Linked DNA regions of Homo sapiens. The protein of the gene in region 2 interacts with the protein of the main gene of each other region in a pairwise test. Each region holds a gene or a part of one and is shown on either strand. Other genes may lie near its edges.

Region 1 (3,500 bases), on a different chromosome or scaffold from region 2:
TTAAAGACAGAGTCTTGCTCTGTCGCCCAGGCTGGAGTGCAGTGGCGTGATCTTGGCTCACTGCAACCTTTGCCTCCCGGGTTCAAGCGATTCTTGCCAGGGTTCAAGCAAATCTCGTGCCTTAGCCTCCTGAGTAGCTGGAATTACAGACATGCACCACCATCCCCGGCTGATTTTTTTGTATTTTTAGTAGAGACAGGGTTTCACCATATTGGCCAGGCTGGTCTTGAACTTCTGACCTCAAGTGATCTGCCCCCCTAGGCCCCCCAAAGTGCTGGGATTACAGGCATAAGCCACCGTGCCCAGCCCCCATTCCTTTCTACCAACTTAAATCCTATATTTCTTCAAGTCTTGGCTTAGGACTCTACATGCAGTCTTCCTTGGTTCCCTCACTGCAAATATTTACTTTAAACACGCTGAAAGATTGTTAATTATATAAAGGGTATACTGTAAGTAGTTATTTAATTAAGTCACTCCTCCAAACTACTGGCCACCCTAGGCCCTCTACATACACAAAAACTGATAACCTTCAGCAGCAATGGCCAATATGCCAAAGAGTCTCTCTGATTATACCTAAAGGGTTGGCAACATTCCCTCAAAACCACGGACACACGATTATTTAACTTTTTTAAAAAAAGTATATGCCACAACTAATCATCAACAAATCAACTAGACAGTTTAAGTAGATTTAACACCAATGCAACCTTGCTCCCAGCATATATTCTATGGTACACATAGCATTTTCATATTAGTCAATAAGTTCACTGAGTCACATATGATTTTGAAATTTTCCTGAAGGGAGAAACAAATGGGGATGCTGCCTGCGAATAGTTAATTTGACTCCTTATCTTATTAAAATCAGTGGAATCAGATGTTTTTAATACAAACCTTCACTGTTTCCTTAATCTTCCATACAATTTGATTTTGGAGGGATGCTTCACAGAGAATATAGTCGGGTGCAATGCAGGTTTGGCCACAATTCATGTATTTTCCCCAGGTTATGCGTCTGAGGGGAAAACATCCAGAACAGCTATATAATTCAGTAATTCAGTCAAATATTCATTTGTTACATTGTGTTGTTTGAATGTCTTGCAACTAAAATAGATTCATATATTTATCTGGCAATTTTTATAAAAAAGTTAAAAACTCATTTCTAAATCAGTTGTTTGGAACTTAGAAAGTATTTTCCAAATGAGGTGGAATATTTTACATAGCAGGGAAGTTCTCAGGCCAGCTCACGGCAAACAGTACTTGGTAAACAGTGAAGCCATTGCCTGCTGCAGGAAAAGAGGAGAAACAGCCTCCCAATGTCCTTTCCCCTCTTCCAGTCCAGCCAAAGGAAAGTCCTGGATGACCAGAGTTCGGTACAGACTCTCCTGGTTGTGGCTTTTGGCTCTGCCTGCAAGATGTTCAGGTATAAAGCAGGATGTCAGCCAGCCTCCAAGGCCATCCTCCTCTTTGTGGAGCCCTGCCCCACTTGGGAAGACCTTTCCTATGCATGGGCAGAAACCCATGCCCTAAACATTCACTAACTGAGGGTGTCTGGTTTTGACAAATGGATTTCTACTTAGGAAGCCAACCTGGAACCCTGACCTGGAATCTCTGAAGGGCAGAGAAAGCCACACCACCCAGAGCACAGAGTCAGTTCTATGATTTGGCACTTCTTAGTAGCTAAACCGGATTTAGCAGAGAGAACCTGAAACCTCTTATTTTCTAATTTTCAGATGCAAGATGTTATTCACAGTTAAAAAATGAGGAACACTTGTTTTGCCCACAAAGGATCTCAGTTAAGATATCAGCATAATACCCTCTCAAATGGGCATTTAAAGATTTTATTAGGCACACACAATACTTTGGATTATGTACTTCACAGATCACTGGCCAGAAGAACGTTAAAATTTCTTGCTAGATCTAGCTGTAATCTTGAGAACAGATATAACTTTTTTAAAATTCCTAAGGACAACCACATGATGTCAGGACTTACAGCTCACCATTTTTGACAGTGGCGCCAAGAGACAGTGAAAGACTCCTGTTACTCTTGAGGACATCAACCACCAAAGCTTAATAATGTATCTTGGAGCCATAAGGTATGGGGTTCAAGTACAAAGAGTAACATTGTCAGGAAAAGTCTCCATTGTGCTGGGAAAACCTCAGAAAATCAGAGAGCCAGACTCACCTGCAAACAATGTCCAGGTCACAATCTTTATCAATATAACATGGACTTTTCCCTCCCAGTTCAAGAGTCACAGGGGTCAGATGCTTGGCAGCAGCTTCCATGACAATTTTGCCAACCGCAGTGTTTCCCGTATAGAAAATGTGGTCAAATCGCTGCTTCAGGAGCTCCGTGGTTTCCTCAACACCACCATTAATAACAATATAGAGATCCTCAAAGAAAGAGAAACACAAACTCTTGCACTGCCAAATAAATCCTAACGTCTAACATCAGCAATCTCTTCAACATAAACATGTAACATTCAGTAAAACCCAGAGAGTGTCAAGACCAGTCCCTGTGAGGGATGGGAGAGGGAACTGACCAAGGACAAGAGGAGAACACACAGTCCGATGGCATCTGGGAAGCATGAACCCACATAGAACTAATCTGGAGACTCCAGTGTTTTTTTACATGAGCTCAGCAACAAAGACACTAAGGAGAACAAATGGTTGAATTTGACCAGGGAAAATGCATGAGACGCGGGTGTGTGCAGAAGTGCCTCTGGTGAAGAGTGGCTCCCACAGGACAGGTCATGCATGTCTTAGTCTGAATGTTCTCTGTCTCACAACACAGAGTGGGCTTAGCCCACGCTATTCTGAATGAATGGTATATCCGGCACAGTAGCTGAGAGCGCTTGCTTTTGAAGTGTATCTGGTTTGAATCTGGGCTCTGCCACTCACTAGCTTATGCAACCTTAGGCAAGCTACTGAACATCTCTGAGCCTCAATTTCCTCATCTGTTACTGGGAGAATTCACGTAGCTTCTGTGGACTGAGCCCATCTATGCATTGTGCTATCATTACCAGCTATTCTAAGAGAGAACATCTTGGACAATAACAGCATCAAAAGTAAGAGAACAGATGGCAAGCAAGGAAGACAGAGAGGTATTCAAGACTCCAAGGTGGAAGTGTGAAGTAAAAGCTGGCTTGTGGATCTCATGTTTCCACTTGAAGGCGAATTAATTTCATTCACTTCATGGTTCAGCTGCCCAACAAATGTTTCAAGCTTTAACTTTTCTATGGCTTAATCTACATAGCATATATTATTGATCCCCTAACACGGTAACTGAAGCTGGTAGAGCATTATTATCCTCCTTATCCGGACAGAGTCAGTTATTGAAGAATTTACCCCTGGTCAGGGGCAAAGCGGTACCTTCAACCTCTATCTTCTGGTTCTACGTCCTATTCAATCCTTGACATCTCACTGTCTTCCATTTCATCTTTCTTGATTGGATCATCACAGCTATTAGAACAAAATGGCTCTAACAAAGAGAAAAATATCATTCCAAG
Region 2 (3,500 bases):
ACAACTCACATTATCTGTCTTTATGATATTTAAGTTTTTTTCTTAAAGTATCCATTAATGTGATCAATCACTTACAAAAGCAAATTGTCCAAGTGGCCAAAGCTATATCCCGAGGGTAAATACATCAGAGCTTCTCAACTTTAATGTGCATACAAATCTTCTGAGAGCTATTTAAGATGCAGATTCTGAATTAGTATGTCTAGGGTGATCTAAGATTCCAAATTTCTATAAAGATCACATTTGTTACCAATGCTGTTGGTTACTGGACACTGTTTTGAGAACATGGATTGAAAGACAATATTTTTGAGGTAACAATACTCCCCAAAATGATCTGCAAATTCACTGCAATCTGTATCAAAATCCAAGCTGGCATTTCTGCAAAAATTGACATGCAGATTCTAAAATTCATATGAAAATGTGAGGGATCAAGATTAGCCAAAACAATCTTGAAAAATAACAAAATTGGAGGACTCATCATTCCTGATTTCAAAACTTACTGTATATGTATATTCTGAAAATGGCAATGTAAAACTGATACATCTGTTCTATTGGACCTAAATGGCTACTTTTAAGGAAATGCTTTGTTTAGAAAAAAAAAGGCAAGACTGCAAACTGTTTTGCAATTTGGTAATATCTTACAAAATTACAAACATCAAACATTTCTAACTCCATTTCTAATATTTCTTACAGATATGCTTTCACATATGTGAAATGACAAATGTACGTGGTTATTCTCAGCAGTATTTTCTGAAGATCAAAGGAGTAAATAACCTAAATGTCCACCAGAATGGCTCAGGTTAAAAAAATTATGGTGCAGGTCCACAATCCCTTACTTACAACCCTTGGATCCAGATACATTTTGAAATCTCAAGTTTTCTAATTTTGCAAAGGTTATATGGTACATATGCCATTTGGTATATTATGTAACACATCCAATAGAGTCTAAGGCAGCTCTCACTAAAAAGAGAATGTGATTTTTGCAGCAAAACATATAAATAGTTACATTAAAGAGGAAAGAGACTCAAAATACCCTCGTTTTACTTCAGGTCAGGTTTTACTCCCCAGATTTTTAGTTCATATCAGACAGGTTTTGCTGCCAAATGAGTTTACCAAAAAACTTCTGGTCTTCAAAGATTTTTAAAATTGTAAGTTATAGCTAGGTAGCTGTGAGCCTGCACCTTTATTACTATTATTTACTCTTCTTTGTTTTATAATTAGCTGTTTAAATATCTGCCTCTGGCCAGTGGCTGGACACCACAGCAGCAGATCCAGATTTATTTCCCTCTGCATCCCAACATGCCTGACATACATAAAACATTTAATTTTTTTTTTCTGGCAGGGTACAATTGCTCATGCCTTTAATTCCAGTGCTTTGGGAAGCTGAGTTGGGAGGATTACCTGAGGTCAGGAGTTCGAGATCAGCCTGGCCCACATGGCAAAACCCTGGCTCTACTAAAAATACAAAAATTAGCCATACAAGAATACAAGTGTACACTTGTAATCCCAGCTACCTGGGAGGCTAAGTCAGGAGAATTGCTTGAACCCAGGAGTTGGAGGTTGCAGTGAGTCAAGATGGGACCACTGCACTCCAGTCAGTGTGACAGAGGAAGACTCCATCTCAAAAAAAAAAAAAAAAAAAAAAGAAAAGAAGAAAACATTTAGTTTTTTCTCTGAATTGAATAAGCATGCCTTATAAGAAGGACTACTTGTTAATATTTGACTTCTGTAAGCAAATCAGATGTAGAATGATGTGGTAGAGTTATGCCCAGTAAGCAGTCAGTACTACTTGCACGTGGTTTATGACCGTGACAAGGACCGATTTCAGCACAGGAAGATTACTATTCTGAAATGCTGCCATTATTGTCAATTATTAAAAGATGTCTTATAAATAGGGATGTCAAGGGAAAAAAAGGGGATGCCAGGCGATTTTTATTTAAAGGGTATATAATTTTCTCTTAAATTGACTCTTGTGGTCTCATTTCACTCTGCTTTCTAAAAAAAATTCAAGATCAAATGTTTAGTTAATACCAACAAATCTCCCATTTTATTCAACTCCTACAAGTATGCAAAACACAACCCTTTCAATCCTTTGTGTACATGAAGACAAAATTCTAAAAAAAAAAAAAAAATAGAAGTTGTAATCCATGCAGAGATGCTTGAACCAAAATAAAGAAAAAAGAAAACAAGCTAAATGAATTAACTGTCTTGCATTAGCTTATATGCTATAGTTAAACCACACCCTAAACACATCTATTTTTAATTTCTTTTTTTGTTTGTTTTTTTCTTTTTTTGAGACAGCATCTCACTCTGTTGCTCAGGCCGGAGTGCAGCAGAGTGATCTCGTCTCACTGCAAACTTTGCCTCCTGGGTTCAAGTGATTCTTGTGCCTCAGCCTCCCAAGTAGCTGGGATCACAGGCGTGTGCCACCATGCCTGGCTAATTTTTGTGTTTTTTGTAGAGACGGGGTTTCACCAAGTTGGCAAGTCTGGTCTTGAACTCCTGACCTCAAGGTGATCTGCCCGCTTTCGCTTCCCAAAGTGCTGGGATTACAGGCATGAGCCACCACACCTGGCCAACATATCCATTTTAAAATTAGCTAGTAAATCATTGAATTCAAAGTACTATTAACGTAATTCTCAAAGCAAAATAGAAAACATGACCTATCAAAATAAAACCATGAATTCTGCTATAATTTCGAATATACTAAGTAAACTACCTGGTGTATTTTAATAGCTTACCACTTAAGGGTTAAAATTTTAAGGGTTTATAATGTTTTGGAACTTCATATAATGTGTTTGCCTGGAATGAAAACTCCTGGGTGACAAGATTGTAAGTTCTGTAAGTTTGTGCAGAATTCTTTTGACATGTAAATTTTAAACAAAACTTTTACATGATTTCATGATTCCTACCTTCTAAACATTTAGAGATTTTCTCCAGTCGGACTGGCGCGTGAAAGTAAGAAAAAAAATCAGAGATACAAATATTAATATGTGCATAATATATCAGTTGATGAATTTAAAAATAGGTAAAATAGTCCAACCTGAGGTTATATCAGAACTCCTGCCACTCTTTTTGTCCTCGACAATTTCATAAAATGGACCTATGACACGCAGCAATTCTTCAACTTTCTCAGTCATTGGCATAGTTTCAATAATCTGTAATCAAAAGAAACAAATATTGTGAAATCACAAACTCTTAATTTGATCTCCACTAATATCAAATAATCTCCTATTTCCAATTTGTCAATAATTTTAATATTTGACATTCATAATAGACTCTCTGAAGGATCTACATTAATTACATACTTAATGTATACACACTGTGGCCGGGCTAAGTGGTGGCTCATGCCTGTAATCCCAGCACTTTGGGAGGCCAAGGCAGGAGGATGGCTTGAGCCCAGAAGTTTGAGACCAGCCTTGGCAACACAGTGAGACCCTGTCTCTTAAAAATTTTTTAAAAAACATTAACCAGGCACGGTGGTGTGTGTCTGTGGTCCCAGC

The links.
Region 1: the proteins of ACBD5 (region 2) and ALDH3A2 come close enough for resonance energy transfer, tested with the Homo sapiens proteins (one large-scale study listed by BioGRID).

The regions. Positions count from the first base shown.
Region 1 is NC_000017.11:19,655,251-19,658,750, reverse strand, and holds part of ALDH3A2 (aldehyde dehydrogenase family 3 member A2), read right to left. Parts: intron 3,473-3,500; exon of another isoform or gene 3,364-3,472; intron 2,386-3,363; coding exon 2,177-2,385; intron 1,007-2,176; coding exon 889-1,006; intron 1-888.
Region 2 is NC_000010.11:27,220,298-27,223,797, forward strand, and holds part of ACBD5 (acyl-CoA-binding domain-containing protein 5), read right to left. Parts: intron 3,156-3,500; coding exon 3,041-3,155; intron 2,943-3,040; coding exon of another isoform or gene 2,910-2,942; intron 1-2,909. UniProt on the Homo sapiens protein: Acyl-CoA binding protein which acts as the peroxisome receptor for pexophagy but is dispensable for aggrephagy and nonselective autophagy. Binds medium- and long-chain acyl-CoA esters.